Regions from separate parts of the Homo sapiens genome. Here all the other regions are linked to region 3. The links come from fine-mapping of genetic effects on gene expression. Tissue or cell type: whole blood. Region 3 holds a variant in brackets; each other region holds the start of a gene. All regions are shown on one strand. Distances are from middle to middle.

Evidence for each region. PIP is the estimated chance that this variant, and not a neighbour inherited with it, causes the effect.
Region 1: it holds the start of EHD4, and the variant in region 3 is fine-mapped to the expression of EHD4 in whole blood (TOPMed, PIP above 0.99). The same link has a PIP of 0.9 or more in B cells, T cells, blood mononuclear cells, monocytes and non-classical monocytes.
Region 2: it holds the start of SPTBN5, and the variant in region 3 is fine-mapped to the expression of SPTBN5 in whole blood (TOPMed, PIP above 0.99). The same link has a PIP of 0.9 or more in monocytes.

The regions. Positions count from the first base shown.
Region 1 is chr15:41,970,107-41,975,251 of GRCh38, forward strand. It overlaps EHD4 (EH domain containing 4), which reads right to left and starts at 2,451. Exons shown (of 6, transcript NM_139265.4): 1 at 2,153-2,451. The coding sequence starts at 2,388. PLA2G4E-AS1 (PLA2G4E antisense RNA 1) reads left to right here and starts at 2,657. Exons shown (of 4, transcript NR_120334.1): 1 at 2,657-2,892; 2 at 3,698-3,852. RefSeq lists an enhancer at 1-130 and silencers at 1,893-2,162, 2,263-2,332, 2,373-2,502.
Region 2 is chr15:41,891,829-41,896,973 of GRCh38, forward strand. It overlaps SPTBN5 (spectrin beta, non-erythrocytic 5), which reads right to left and starts at 2,225. Exons shown (of 68, transcript NM_016642.4): 1 at 2,071-2,225; 2 at 1,454-1,718; 3 at 1,066-1,233. The coding sequence starts at 1,669. It overlaps EHD4 (EH domain containing 4), which reads right to left. Exons shown (of 6, transcript NM_139265.4): 6 at 4,105-5,145. LOC105370792 (a long non-coding RNA gene) reads left to right here and starts at 949. Exons shown (of 4, transcript NR_135681.1): 1 at 949-1,250; 2 at 3,399-3,508; 3 at 3,752-5,145. RefSeq lists an enhancer at 1,010-1,069.
Region 3 is chr15:41,925,623-41,930,767 of GRCh38, forward strand. All of the region lies in intron 3 of EHD4 (EH domain containing 4), which reads right to left. It overlaps EHD4-AS1 (EHD4 antisense RNA 1), which reads left to right. Exons shown (of 4, transcript NR_120332.1): 2 at 459-545; 3 at 2,728-2,884; 4 at 3,060-3,664. Among named protein-coding and RNA genes, the nearest start is that of EHD4-AS1, 6.8 kb to the left of the region's middle. RefSeq lists enhancers at 269-786, 2,187-2,396, 3,292-3,795, 3,758-3,837, 3,858-3,987. The variant T/C (reference allele first, on the strand shown) is at 2,140.

The DNA of each region.
Region 1 (5,145 bases), 44 kb after region 3:
CAAGTTCACAAGTCTCCAGGGTAGCTGCCCTTTTGTTTGGGGATTTCCTCCCGGGTGCTAAATCACTTCCTCCTAGCTCCAATCTGAAAAGCAATTCAGGTCTCCTGTGGCCTCACCAAGCTTCCTGCCCACACTGATTTTCTTCTAACCTCACTGGTCTACCTTGTGTACATCACCTAACAACAAAGCCACTTAGCTCAAGGAAAGCCTCAAGAACAAATGGCTTCCTAATAAGGTGATTCCTCCCTCACCCTAGGGTGGCCCACAGCTCCAGCACCTGCTGAGAGGTGGCCAATTTGGATGAGGTAGCTGCCAGGAATCAAATCTCAGAACCCTTCATAAAACTGCGCTTAGCTATTCCACAAATTTCTCCAAATAATGAAACAGAGAGAAGAGTGAGAATATAATGAGAGAGAAATCTGGAAAAATACAAAAGATAAATTCATGTTCCTGTGAGTTGTATTCATCTTCCTGGGAGTTGATAATCAGGCTGGCTAGCTATCCAGTCTATGGGAGCAGAGAGAGGGCTGCATTATCTCCAGGTTGGCACAGCATCTAGCAGGGGCTCCCTGATGACACCTGGGCACAACAAGGACCTCACAGCAAAGACAAACAGGAGGAAATGCCTAGGGTGTGGGGACATGCCACCACTAAATTACAAAAATATATGCCTTTCTTCTTTGTATGTTTCAACAGTACCGCTTCCCACTCTTGTACCACTTGGCCATAACACTTTATTATCCCTAGTACCTAAAAACTAGACAGTATTACTGAGACCTTAAATGTGACATTTGTCATCTTTCAAGGTGCCAGTTACTGTAATACAGCTATGGTTCATTTTGAGTGTCTGGGTGACGGTGACATATTTAATTCTATTTTTGTCTTGTCCATAAGCACCAAATAAAGCAATTTTGAAATTACTTTCTTCACACTCAATTTATTATCTAGAACGACATTTCAATACACAGTATATTTGTTTTGTGGAATTCATTCGCAGTGTATCTGGAGGCCTGGATTTAACATATTTCCTGTAGTGATAGCTACTCTATTTGTAGGAACTATTTAGGTCACTGGAGTGGAGAAAAAGAGGTCGCTACTTAACAGAAATGGCATGTATCCAAATATAGATGCAGTTTTCTCAACACCTGTTGCACATCAAATGATGAAGAGATTGTTACAATTTCCAAAACCCTGGACCAAAACCTTAAATGATCAGCACTTTGTTTCAACTGATACACGGCTTAAGTCAGAAAAATAAGTTCTTCTTACCAAAAACAGTGAGCCTAAATATGCTGGCTGCTTTAGAAATAAAACAGGTGATCAACAAAGCAATCTGTTTCTGTCTAAATAATTTCCCAGCAAAAGTCACTTCTTTTGAAACTATATGATTTGAACCACAGGGTATGCACAGTGATTGTGTGCTTTCAGAAACACGGTAAGCATGACAAATATTTTCAGTTGTCAAGGGTAAGCGAGGAGGGAATGACCCACCTAAGAAATGGAAACTAACAAATAGTAATATGACACTCCCCCTTAGTTCCACAGGCTGGTGCGGCTGCTACACGCAGCTCACTTCCTACGGGCGGCTAAAGGCGGTGCATGAACTGAACGTAGGCGGCCTCTTTATCCCCTCCCCACAACACTGTGGGGTGGCACGTAAAGACCTCAAGGGAAGGGGGCCTGGGCGATACGCTCTCCTGCTGCCATTCATTTGTTCAAGAAATAGTTGAACAAATGAATAGTTAAACAAACTCTCCAACTAGGACTCTGTCCCATTCGGATACCCTACGCCTCTCCCCCCATTTCCATCCCTAGGCATCACTCCCTCGTCAAGAATATGCTGATTATGGCTCGCGCCCCCTCTCTCCCTTGGACCCTCCCGCCAGGGCGACCGGACGAGGCCAGCGGGAGCAACGCCTTCCGAACCGCAAGGAAGGAGGGCTCGGAGTGCGCAGGGCGCGGGTTCGCGGGACCCTCCAGCGCGCGGGGCTGGCCAGCCGGGGCGGGGCCGAGGGCACCGGGCGCCGAGCTCCGGGAGGGGTCCCCGAGGTCGCGCCGGCCGGGAGGGGCAGCGGCGGGAGGCGGCCGACTGCGGCGCACACGTGGGGAGGGCGGAGCGGGGCGGGAGCCGGGCGAGGGGCGGTGACGGTACCTGATGAAGGTGGTCTTGCCGGTGCTGTACTGGCCCACCAGCAGGATCATGGGCTTGTTCTCGAAGTCGGCGTCCTCCAGCGCAGGCGAGTGGAACTCGTGGAAGCGGTACGCCTCCTCCAGCGGCAGCACCTTGCGCAGGTAGAGCGAGCGCAGCCCGCCCGTCACCGTCTGCACCGCGTCCGCGCCGCCAGCGCGTTCGCGCCCGCCCGCCTGCCGCCCCATCCAGCTGAACATCCTGCCGCCAGTCCACGCTCGGATGGGACCCTGCTCCGGGTTCGACTCTCCCCGGCTCGCACTGAGCCGCCCCGGCCGCGCTGGCCGCCGCCCGAGGAGGGCCCCGCCTTGTGCTGCCACAGCCAGTCTTCGGCCGCTACGTCACGCGCGCTCGCCCACTATTCAGACGAGCTCTCTCAGGTCCTTCCTGATTGGATCTCTGCCAGAGAGGGCTGAAGGCGTCAGCCAATTGAGAGGAGGTTCTTAATGAATTATTGATGACGGAGTCATTCTAGAGGACTGGGCGGGGAGATGGTGTCTTCCCGGCCGGGTGGCACTGACCGGTCATGCTCAGGGCCCCCTTCTGGTTGCCGGTGCCTCACCTCTGGCCAGGTGGCATCGGCTTCCGGGTAAATCTGAGCTGCCCAAAGCGAGCCTCCGGAGGCTGCTCCATCTCCTGGAACGTTTACTCATTCAGGCCTCTGGACGTCGATACTGGGGATGAAAAGTTCAGAAAGTGGACAGGCAGGTTCTGTCTTCCCGGGGGCGGGTGGTTATGACTCCGTTTTACAGGCCAAGAGACCCAGGCTCACGGGCATAATTGACACAATCTTGAGGGGAAGTGGACTGGAATCTATTTGAGTAGCCGTTTCTCCTACTTCTCCACATTGCCCTCACTAAATTCTGGATCAGCTAAAGGCTTTTTCCCCTTAGTTTTCTTTATGTGTTTTTCTGTAAAGCCGAAAATTTAGTCATTACTCTCATTATTACATTATCCTCATTATTACAACTTTATTTCCACATATTGACATGTGAGTCATTGTCACCTCCTAGCTGTTTTTTGTTGTTGTTGTTGTTTTCTGAGACGGAGTCTCGCTCTGTCGCCCAGGCTGGAGTGCAGTGGCACGATCTCGGCTCACTGCAACCTCCGCTTCCCGGGTTCAAGCAATTTTCCTGTCTCAGCCTCCTGAGTAGCTGGGACTACAGGCGCTCACCACCATGCCCAGCTAATTTTTGTATTTTTAGTAGAGATGGGGTTTCACCATATTGGTAAGGCTGGTCTTGAACTCCTGACCTCAGATGATCCGCCTGCCTTGGCCTCCCAAAGTATTGGGATTATAGGCGTGAGCCACCGCCCCTGGCCTGTTTCTTTTCTAGGTTAAAAGGATACTCACTTATCTAAGTTGAGATTGGGGGAAATAATCACCTTTTGTGTCCTTGATTGTAGCTTAGGAATATTTCTTAGTTGTTTTAGAGCATTTCTCAAGTGTGATCCATGGGGCCACCTGCATATATGCATTTATGAGCTGGGATGCTTGTTAAAATGCAGATTCCTGGTCTTCAGTCCAGACCTACTGAGTTAAAATATTGAGGAGAGATGGAGCTCAACAGATGCCCTAGGTGACTCTGATGTGGCCTAAGTCTGGGGAAACAGTACACCCTGCAGTACTTCTCCAACCTAACAGAAATGCGGATTCTGATTCGGTAGGTATGGGATGGGGCCCATGACTCTACATTTCTAACAGGCTCTCGGGTATTGCCAATGCTACCCATCCCTGGACCATACTTGGAGTATGAGAGAACAGGACTTTGCATCAAAAGATCTGGGTTTGAACCTTGACTATGTAAATTAATGGCTGTGTGATTTTAAATGTGATGAGTTACCTCTCTGCCCTAGTTTCCTTAAGAGCAAAATGGAAACTCCTTTGGAGTTGTTGTGTGGGTCACATAGTTGGAGGGAATTGTATGTAACTAGGGAAGTGAAAAGAAAGCCAAGGGAAAATAAAGTTAGACATCTGCCTTGTGTCAAAATAAAACAAAGATTGAAATGTAAAAAGAAAATGAAACCACTGCACTACTAGAAGAAGGTACAAGAGATTTATACAATTTGGCGGTGGAAAAGCCTTTCTAACCAACATTAAGGACAGAAATTATGAAAGCAAAGGCTGACATATTTGACAACAAAAGTAAAAGCTTCGATGTATTTTTTTAGAATACATAAAAACAAACGGATATAAATACAATCTTACCATATGATGCAGAAATCAGCTCCTTAGTATTTACCCAAATGAATTGAAAACTTATATCCACAGAAAAGCCTGTACATGGATGTTCATAGTGGCTTTATTCATAAGTGCCAAAAATTGGAAGCAACTAACATGTCCTTCAGTAAGTGAAAGGATAATCTGTGGTACATCCAGACAATGGAATCTTATTCAGCACTAAAAAGAAATGAGCTATCAAGCCATAAAAAGACACAGAGGAAACTTAAATGCCTATTACTAAGTGAAAGAAGCCAATCCGAAAATGCTATGTACTGTACGATTTCATCTTTATGACATTCTGGAGAAGGCAAAATTATGGAGGAAGTAAAAAGGTCAGTAGTTTCTAGGTGTTAGGGAGAAGGAAGGAATGAACAGGCAGAGAACAGAGGATTTTTATGGCAGTGGCTCTACTTTTTATGGTACTATAATGATGGATACATGTCATTATATATTTGTCAAAACCCACAGAATGTACAACACCAAGAGTGAATGTAAGTGATAATGACTCGTGAATTTCAGATCAGTTTTAGGTTCACAGCAAAATGGAGCATAAAGTACCGAGAGTTCCCATATACCCCCACCCTCCCCGACACACAGCCTCCCCCACTATCAACATCCTGAACCAATGGAACATTCGTTACAATCAATAAACCTAACCTAAATAGATACATCACTAAATTAACTTAAAATGGAACTAGATATAAAACTAATATAAATGTAGAACTAAATGTAA
Region 2 (5,145 bases), 34 kb before region 3:
TTCTAGACCACAGTTGCCTCCTATGTGTATGGAGACAAGGATGTCACCCTCACAGGTATCAGTGACATGCTGTATATTAAAGCTTGGGGAGAGCTGCAACACCTCTGACAAAGGCTGTGGGGCTTACACCCTTCCCCAGTTCCTGGAGGGGAGATGACTGGCTCACAGGGTCATTGTCCCTGGATCAACTAGGGCCCAGCATTCTGCAGCTGGCAGCGTTCTGCTCTTGCACCTGCTCAGGACAGCAGTCACTCCCATTCCCTTTGCTTGGGCTTCTCCCCTCCCTGGCTTTCCTCCAACACACCCCAGGAGGCTGGATGTAAGCTCCACTCCAGGATATAGTGATAGGCACGCACAGTCAGGCTCCATCCAGCCAGGCCCAGCTCAGTGACTTCACAGCCTCCAGGGACAGCCACCTCCAGGAGCCCTTGGCCTTCACAGTTCCCGGTTTCCAATGATCCCTTTGCCCCACCCCACCCCTGCACCAGCCCCTCACCCTGGCCATGAGGGTCCCTCTGTCCCTGGAGCTCCGGCCTCCTTTTAGTGCCCATCTCCTTAGCCTGTCCCTTTCTTTCAGGTGACTCTGCCTCCCCCCATTTGCTGAGGCCTCCTCCCTCCTTCTCCAAGACAGGCCCTGCTCCTCTTCCCCACCTGCCGTCTTAGTCCCACATCTGGGCTCTGTTGGCTGGTTAACCATCGATCTTGCCTGGTAAATAATTCAGGGCCTCTGTTTCCTCATCTGTGAAATGAAAAGCCTAAGAGAACGCTAAGATTCTTTTGGCCTAGAATCCTGTGAGTCTCTCTTATGACAGACAGTGACATTTTCCACCCCAGTAGGGACCTGGATTGCTACTGCCATGGCCAGCTGGGTGCTCTCCAAGTCAGGGGTGCTGTGCGAGGAGGGCGTGGCTTCTGCTCCTCTGTGTCCCAGCCACTCCTCCTGTACTCAGGCCCCAGCTCCTCTGTTCTGCCCAGTGGCCTGGCGCAGGAAAGGTGACCCAGTAGTTCAGCCTGTCCCAGCTGCCTGCCCCAGCACCATCCCAGACCCCTTTCCCTGGGGCCCACCTTGGCCCTGAGGAAGGCCAGAGCTCGGCTGCTGTTCTCCAGGAAGTGCACACGCAGGCGGCCCCGGCTCGGGGGTGGCAGGGCCTCCCCTGAGATGAGCTCCAGCAGCCGCAGGAGGTGGATGCCGTCAGCCAGCTCTGTGTACAGGTTCCGGATCTTGATGCCCGCCTGGGGAGGGGACAGGGGTAAGTATGGGGTCAGCCCAGCCTCACCTGTCCTCCCATCCTGGGACCTGAGAGGTACGACCCAGAGCAGCTGCTTTGGAAGAAGGAGCTCTGGCCTCAGCTTGGCCTCAGGCAGATGACCCCACAGCTCACCCCGGAGGCCCACTGGCCAGAGCTGGGGGCCTGGTATGGGTGGGCTGTGGGTCACAGCTGGCTATACTCACCTGGCCGCACTGGAAGACGTTATTGATCCACTTGGTGAAAGTCTTCTCCTGCATCTGCATGTGCCGGGCCTGTAGCTTGCGAATGTGGCCCGTCTCGTACTGAGAGTCCATGGTGAGACTTGGACTGGGCGGGACCCGGAGTTCTGTGCTGGGCCTCCTGCTGCGGTGCCCTGCAGCCCCGAGGAGCTCCCGGGGACTGTGGGGCTGACCAGCCATCAGCCCTGCAGACTTTGGGGATGAGGAGCTGCTGGATGGCTCCCTAAACCTGGAGGGCATGCAGATTAGGGGATGATGTGAATGGAGATGGCCCCTCTACCAGGGGCCTGGGGTCCCGCCTTGCCAGACTGTCCTCACATTTCATGGGGGTTGCAGCTTGGAGCCCAGCCAGGTAAGGGCCAGTGCTTCTGGTCCCCTGTGCTTGAATGGCCCAGGGCCCCCTTTGCCCCACCCCACCTTCCAGATTCTTCTTCTCAGAGCCCCTGCTGCCAGGTCCCTCCACCACAGTGACTGGGACAGGTGGAAGGAAGACAGGAAACTGCTTACCTTGGTGATGCCTGGGTCCCACAGAGACGGCTCTGCTGGACGGATGGAGATGGTAGATAGCAGGGGCTGCTTACCTTGGTGATGCCTGGGTTCCACAGAGGCGGCCCAGCTGGACGGATGGAGATGGCAGATAGCAGGGGCTGTGGAGGGAGGGAGAGGGACATCAGGAGAGGCCAAGGCTGGAGCAGGGCTGCACCACAGCCCTCCCCTTGAGCCAGCGTGCTGGGGTGACGGCACACAGGCGGCATTGTCCTCCCACCTGCCACAGGGCGTGGCCCAGACAGGGAGGGGGTGGTTCAGGAATGCTCCAGGGCCATTGCCAGATGATGTCCTCCTTCATCATCCTCCCTTCCCCGCCAGCAACTTCTCCAACTCCAGGTGGGGGTCCTGGCTCCCAGGACGCAGAGGCCCATGGAGCGGCCCTGCCACCGCATGGGGTGCTGCAGTCTGCGTAGGAGGTACCAAAGGGCAGAGCCTCTGTGGGAAGCCTGTGGACGCACTTCCCAATCTGAGACTGCCCTCTGTACCCTCTTGGGGCCTCTCTGTGAGCACCCAGGGCGAGGGGATGAGGGAGCGTCCTGGGCCGTGGTCTTCTCATTCACCCCCAGGGAACAGCCCATAGACTGAGGGCCTCACAGACCCTGGGCTTGGCTTTCCAGGCCCTGCCAGAGTGCAGCCTGCCTAGCCCGGGGCTGAAGGGTAGGCTCCCTGGAGGAAGGGGTGACCTGGAACTGCGAGGGCTGTGGAGTCTCCTCCAAAATTAGAGACACGGTGTTAACTCTGGGCTCCACAGAGCTGGCCGTGGCCCGGGGCTCGGAGGCAGGGGTGCAGAGGGAGCTGGTGGGCGCCCATCCCTTCCTCCCCGAGCAGCCGTGGACTACATGCCAGAGTGAAGGCGAGTTCTAATTCTGGGGGTCTCACCCGCCTCTGGCTAAACTCAGGGTAGCAGTGTGGGCTGGGGTGTGTGTGTGTGGGTGTCTTCCAGCGGCCCTGGAGCCTCTGAAGCGACAGCCCGCTCCTCAGGGAGGCGCTCCTGGCAGCCACAGCCCACAGCAGGACAGCCGCTCAGCGCGCCCTTGAGAGCTGGGCTAGGGATGAGTCACACTTGAACCGCCTGGGCCCACTGCAGGCAGTCAGGGGTGACGCTGAGAGGTGCCGTGGTCTCGGGTGGGGTGCGGCTTCCTGCGTCTGAGAGACGCTTCCTCTCCTGCTGTCCTCTCCCTGCCAGGCCCCTTCTGCAGCGGCTGGCTTCCAGACACCCTGCGTCCCTCCCTTGCTCGCAGCAGTTGCTGTGGCGGTCCTCCCGTGCACCCCCCCTTCTGCCCTCACTGCCCCTGGGGGTCCTCATCACGGACCCCCTAACTCGGCATCCTGGACACCACCACCCCGCACCTTTCCACAGTGCAGCTCTGCTCGTGCCTGTGAAGCCTCCCACAGCCTGGGAAGGAAAATCCAGACTTGCCAGACCTTGCCTCAGCCAGGCCTTGGAAGCCTGCCAGCTTACCTAACCAGGCTAGTCTGCCCCCCTCACTCTGGGTGCTCTCCATGGGCCACTCACCATTTCCTGAGCAGGACCAGAGCTCTCCTGCCCCAAGGCTGGGCTTCAGCTGCTCTTTCAGCTTTGAACGTCCTTTCCCATTCTCCATCATCCACATTCACCTATCCTGCCTGCCCCAGTTAAAATCCTGTTTCTTCTAGGAAGTCCCTCATCCCACCCGCTTACCCCAGGGAGACTGAGCTTGTTCCTTCTCCTAGTAAGACCCTCAGCCCATGGAGTCCTGTGTGATGTTGTGAGCGTGGGAGGACAGACTGAACTGCTCGGCCCGTGGAGTCCTGTGTGATGTTGTGAGCGGGGAGGACAGACTGAACTGCGTGGTGCTTCGCACATAGACCTCAACAGGGATTGGCATTTTGAAGCTGTTGGCGGGGGCTGTGGACTGCTTTTCTTCCTTTCTAGCTCAACGGCAGCTAAAGCCACTGCATACAATGCAAGGACTGGCTCCTGTTTGGCCACGACTGATTGCAGCCCCTGGTGAAATGAGAACCCTGTGGGTCGGAACAAAGTTTGGATTATTTATGTTGCAAGTAACTAAAATCTCAAGTGAAACTGGTTTAAACATTATATTTTTATTATTTATTTATTTATATTTAATTCTTTTTTAGAGACAGGGTCTTCTTAGGTTGCCCAGGCTGGTCTTGAACTCCTGGCCTCAACGATCTTCCCACTTCAGCCTCCTGCATTGCTGGGATTATAGGTGTGAGCCACCATGCCTGGCTTACACAGTATAAAGGGAATGCATTGGCCCACACAGTGGAAAAAAATATCTAGTAGGAATAGGAAGGACTTCAGGTGAGGTTTGATCCAGCAGCTCAAATGTTGTCACCACAGGCCTGGATTCCTCTGGCCTTTCTCAAGGTCTCTTTCATTTTCATGCTCCACAAGATGGCTTCTGCCAGGCTGACCTCCCTCCCCTGACCCCAGCAGCTCTGGACACCCCTCTCAGTGCCATTTATATTGTTGCATCAATAGGCTCATTTCTATATACTGCAAGGTTCAGAGAAGACAGAGTATCTCTCTCAAGAGTTCTAACATAAGTCTGGGGGTCCTGGCTCTCATAGGCTTGAACAGGGCCACATGTCCATTCCTGAGCCAATATTTGTGACCAAGGGGATGTGGTCAATCTCATCCAAACCTCACTTGAAGTGAGGGTGGGAGGAGGAGTGCTCTGCAAGGAGACTGTAGGTCTGGACCACCAAAAAGGTAGATGGGTTGGTGGGAAAAGCCAGATGCCTACTATGGTAGTGGGCGGGGGGAGGGCACACTGGCAAGGTACAGCAAGAGGCAGGGGCAGTGCTGGACAGGCAGGGGCTCCTCCCTAGCACGACTGGAGAAAGGACTCCTGTGAAGCGGTCACCTCCATGAGTCCCTCCTGTCCTGGCTTCCAACCACTCTGAAGTGGGGCTTTTGTCCACAGACCTGGCCTCTGCTGCCTACCCTCTTCTGTCCCCACCTGATGGGGCCGCTTTCCTTCTGAAGCGGCTGCATTTTGGGTTTCTCTCCACAGGAAGAGTTGGGGCTCACAGGCACACCCTCTCCCTAACTCTTCTCCCCCGGTTCAACCTGGATCCAGGGATCCACACTCTGCTCC
Region 3 (5,145 bases):
GTATTAGTCTGGAACAAAAAAGAGATGTAATCAGTCCAGTTGTTTCAAAATATAGTTTCTTTCTTTGCCAAAGGACCCAAAAGCTACACAGCTTGGGGAACTAGGAGAAAGAATTTGTCCTGCGGAAGATCCCAGATTGGCATTCCTGGCTCCATGTTCTGGGAACAAAAGGAGGGGGCAGGAAGGAAGGAGCCCCTTCTACCCAATCAAGGGCTTCCCGTCACAGCCCCTGTGGAAACTGTGGTCCTCCATCCTGGCCAGAGAAAGAGCCACCAGGGAATGGCATAAGGGGTTAGAACAGTTGCTCCCTGGCTCAGGTAAATATAGCACGGGGGTCCCTGAGGAAGCAAATTTGGCAGTCTATTTTTAATAGAACAAGAGAAAAATAATGCTTACATTTCTTTTCAGAGCCAAGTTTCTAATTATGAGTTTTAAACAAGATGTGTGTCTATGGCCAGGTGCGGTGGCTCAGACCTGTAATCCCAGCACTTTGGGAGGCCAAGGCAAGAGGATTACTTGAGCTCAGGAGTTTGAGACCAGCCTGGGTGAGTGAGGCCCTGTCTCTACTTAAATAAAAAAAACAAAGAAAGATGTGTGTTAATGAAAGGATGCAAGGCAATGGAAGGCAGGCAGAAATGCAGCCGAGCTCCCCCTGCCATGTCCCTCCTCCCACTCCTGGGGTGGGCAGGGCCACTTGCCCGTGGTGGTGACGGAACACTGCCTAAAACTGCTCAAACCTCTCCTCTTTTCGAGGCCCTGCCCGCCCCTCCCATAGTTAGTAGCTCCAGTTCCATGTGGGCATTCCTACCACTGCCCCCAGCACTTTCTGTGTGGCTCTGTCTGTGCAACCCCAGGCTCTCCTGGCTGCATGTTCACCTTTGTGTCCCTCCAGCACCCGTGCAGTGAGCATCCAGCACGAGGCAGGCACCAAGAGTTCCTTCTTGTCCCCAGGTTCCAACCTCACTAATCTAGCCCTCAGACGATCCCCATCCCTTCTTAGAACTCAAAGATTATCTCCAAAACTGTGAGTGTCCCTGATTATGTCTAGAATAAATGTTTCCAGAACAAATTCTCCATGACTAGCCTCTGCTGCAATTCTCAACCTTTGCTCAGTCTCTTACTAAGCCCCACCCTCTCCACTGCACAAACCACACTGGGCTCTGCTGTTCCGCAGCAGCATCCTGTACTTCCCTGTCTCCACACCCTTGCTCAGGCTTTTCTTTCTGTCTGGAATGCCCTTTCCTCTTCTCCAACTACAGCCACTCATCCCTCTGGGGAACTTTCCTCCAGGTGGCCTTCCCCCACCCAGTGGAACAGAACCGCCTTTCCTGTTTCCTCCTGATGGGGTCTGTAGCAGCCTGAGAGCAGGGCCAAGTCTTCACTGTGTCTGTAACCCAAAGGCCCACTGCAGATGCCTTACACTATCAAATCAGGTTCCCGGGGATAGAGTCTTATAGCTTTAATGAATTTCCTTCATAGCACTTATACTCTGAAATGGTATATACATTTGCTGACTATAAGACAGAAATTCTGAGGGCAGAGACTCCACTCCTTATTCTATTCACCACTATACACCCAGGAATTACTACTGAGCACAGTAGGTGTTCAATACATTTGGTTTATTCCTCCAAAAACTAAAAATGGAACTATCATATCATCCAGCAATCCCACTTTGGGTATTTGTCCAAAAGAACTGAAATCAGGACTTTGAAGAGATATCTGCACACCCATGTTCACTGCAGCATTATTGGCATCATTTCTTTATCCATTCATTCATTGATGGACGCTTTATGGCAACAGCCAAGATGTAGAAATAAGAAAAGCATCCATCAGTGAATGAACGGATAGAGAAAATGTGGTGTACACATCCAATGGAATACTATTCAGCCTTAAAAAAAATTCTGCAATATGCAACAACATGGATGGCCCTTGAGGAAAAAAACATGCTAAGTGAAATAAGCCCATCACAGAAGGACAAACATACATAATTCTACTTGTATAAGATATGTAAAATAGTCAAACACACAAAATCAGAGAGGGGAACCATGACTGCCAGAGGCTGTGGGGAGAAGGAAATGGGGCTTTGCTAATCAACCAGCATAAAATTTCAGTTAGGCAAGATGAATAAGTTCTAGAGAT[T/C]TGCGGAACCACACTGTGCCTATAGCCACATTGTGCTTGTAATGGATACTTAAAAATGCGTAAAGAGGGTAGATTTCGTTAAGTGTTCTTATCACAGTAAAATACAGTAAAATTGGTTTAATCAAGTGAATTCACTTGAACAAGAAATGTAACTGATTTTTAGCAATCTGGCAAGTTTAGTTGCTTAAATAGTGGTATGCGTTTCTAAAAAAGGGTTGTTACTAACTAGGGGAAGTGTAAATCATCTCAAAGTAAACATCAACTATCTGGGATCGCTCAGGTATTATAAATACACTTCGAAAAGAGTCCCTTTAGTTAATAATAACAGCCACTTCAGGGCAAGGAGTCTCTGCATTGTTTCCTGGCTGAGTTTACTTCGCAACTAGAAAAGTCTGCTTCTGAAAATGTCTTCTGAAAATGTCATTGTGGCAGAGAGCAAAATGATAGCTATAAATCAACAACTGCAGCAAATATTTACTTAGCTCTTACTACATTCCTGCACTGCCCTGTGAGCTCCATATCACTACAATCTTGTAATCCTTGCAACAATCCCATGAAGTAGGTACTTTTATTACCCCCATTTTACAGGGGAGGAAAAAAGACTCAGAGAGGTTAAGTATCCGACCCAAGGCACACAGCTGTTTCTCAGGGGAGCCCGGATTCAAACCCAGGGACTCGGATCCTAGAGCCTGTGCTTTCACCCGCTGCGCTGCACCATATGTGTACCAGGATGGTAGAATCAGAGGTGAGTGTACTTTATTTTCTCCTTTTTGATTTGTGGTTTCCTAAGTGTTCTACAATGAATATATATTATTTTTATATCAAGAAAACAAATATGCATATTGTAAAAATTATTGGCCCACTTGCATTATTATTGAGGAGGTTGTTCTTTTTCTTCTACAATGGTGCTTCTGGTGAAGGTCTGGATTCCAGCATTTCCCTGCCAGAGGCTATGGTGGGTGTGCCGAGCACCACCCTGAGGGGGAAGCAGTATCTCAGCAACTACACCCCCGAGGAAGAGGCAGTCCCCAATCAGCGGGAGCAATGGGACCTGCTGATGACAAAATAAGCCACAGAATGAATGGCTCTGCTCCACTGGCCTTCTCTCCTCCCTGCCCCCTTTTCCCCAGCTGACCAGATGCAGGGCAGTGGCAGGGAGGGGCTGATACCAAACCCGGTCTGGGAGACTGCCCGGAGGGAACACAGGTTCCCAAGCTCCTTTTGGAGAGGCTGGATGTGAGTTCACCTCGAACCTTTCAGCTGGTAATGGCCACCTCTTGGAGAATGTAACTGGTTACCAGAAAACCCCAGAGGTTGTCTCCCAGTACCTAGCCTAAAGTGGGTGTGGCCACAGAACCTACCAAAATTTAAATAAAAGCAAGAACTAGGCGTGTCCAGGGATGGCGTTGTGCTGTTTATCCGCTCTCTGCTCTTCCCACTCCTCCTTCCTTTGGGATTTTGTCCAAGACTCTGTAAATTAATTTTTCTGTGCCTGTTTCCTCATAAAATAAACAAGCTAACCTCACAGCCTGTCCCTCCTTCCTCTGGGGGATATGTGACAATAACAGATGGGTGAGCCACATGTCCCTGAAGGCCCCTCCAGGGCAAGGGCGGGAGAGCCCCACATCACAGGTTCGTGCCACGCCACAGACATGGGAACAGAGGAAGGTTCCACGCCAGTACTCGGCCCACTGAACGCTGCTGCTTCTGGGCATGTGACCAAGTGAAAGGGAAAATTGGGTTTCGCATCTCACTTTCCATCTCAGATTAAATACCAGATGAAGAAGCAGGCCCATTTAAAGAAGGCTGAGCCCTGGAGAAAGACAGCAACATGGTATTATCAGTCATTTTAGGCTCTTTGCTGGAGAGGGAAGTTGGTAAAAAAACCTACCAAGAAAATCCTGTAAGTCCTGGAGCCTGGCTTAACAATTTCATTCTGCTGGGCCTCAGTTTCTATACCTGTGAGTCAGATGATCAAAAAGGATTCTTTCTAGATCTTAAATTTTAGCTATATAGGGTGGTTCCAAACAGTAAGCTTCTTTGAAATAAAAAGCCAGATTCCCAGGAAAATCGATTTAGCTCAGCGTCTGTATAGTACAGACACGAACTAGTTACAGTGCCAGCCTAAGATGACCCTTCAGATGGCTACAGTAGACCCTTCAGATGGCTACAGGAATACTGAATGAACAACTCTAAATGACACAATTATCAAACAGTAAGTTTCATTTTATTACATCCCTTCTACTGGATTCATGTGCTATATAGCATTTGGGCCAATTTGAAGGTCCTTGAATGTTTCTATAGGTGTAATTAGTTGCCCCAAAGTTTAACTTATTGTCATCCAATTCCAAACAACTCTATACTGAAAGAAACTATCTGAGGAAGGGTTGTGGAATGTATGACTTCCAAGGATGCTTAAGAAGTCACCCCATCTAACCTTCTGATATTATTATATATTAGGATGAACAGATCCAGGAATCCCGTGTCACGCACATGGAAATTGTCCATTCCTCATTTTTCAAGTGGGCTTTGTGTATAAGTCAGGCTAGAAAGTCTCATACAATATGTCTATAAATCAGACGGAGTTGGCGTGGCAAACATTACTTGCACTGAATTTTCTTGAGGCAAAATGCCAACAGACTCCACCCAAATGTGATGAGGTCAAACATTTATAAGCAAGGCTTTGACCGTGACAATGCATCTTGTCATTCTGTGGTTCAGAAGGGCAAAGGTAATGTTTCTTCAGGCTACAGTTTTCTAAAGAGAAATGTTAAACCAACGGGATGACAACTGGGGTCATAAAGGGCTAGAAAGCAACTTCTGACCTGAAGACCCCACCCCTCGCCCTGCCCTGTTCCTCTTTTCAAACATCTTGGCATTGCACAAGTGTCCTGCATGCCTGTGGACAACAGCTGGCACTGCAGACCAGCTCTAGCAATTAAGTTATCAGCTAACCAGCTCCTCAAGCCAAACTATTACTCAGAGACAGTTATTTCTGGGCTTATG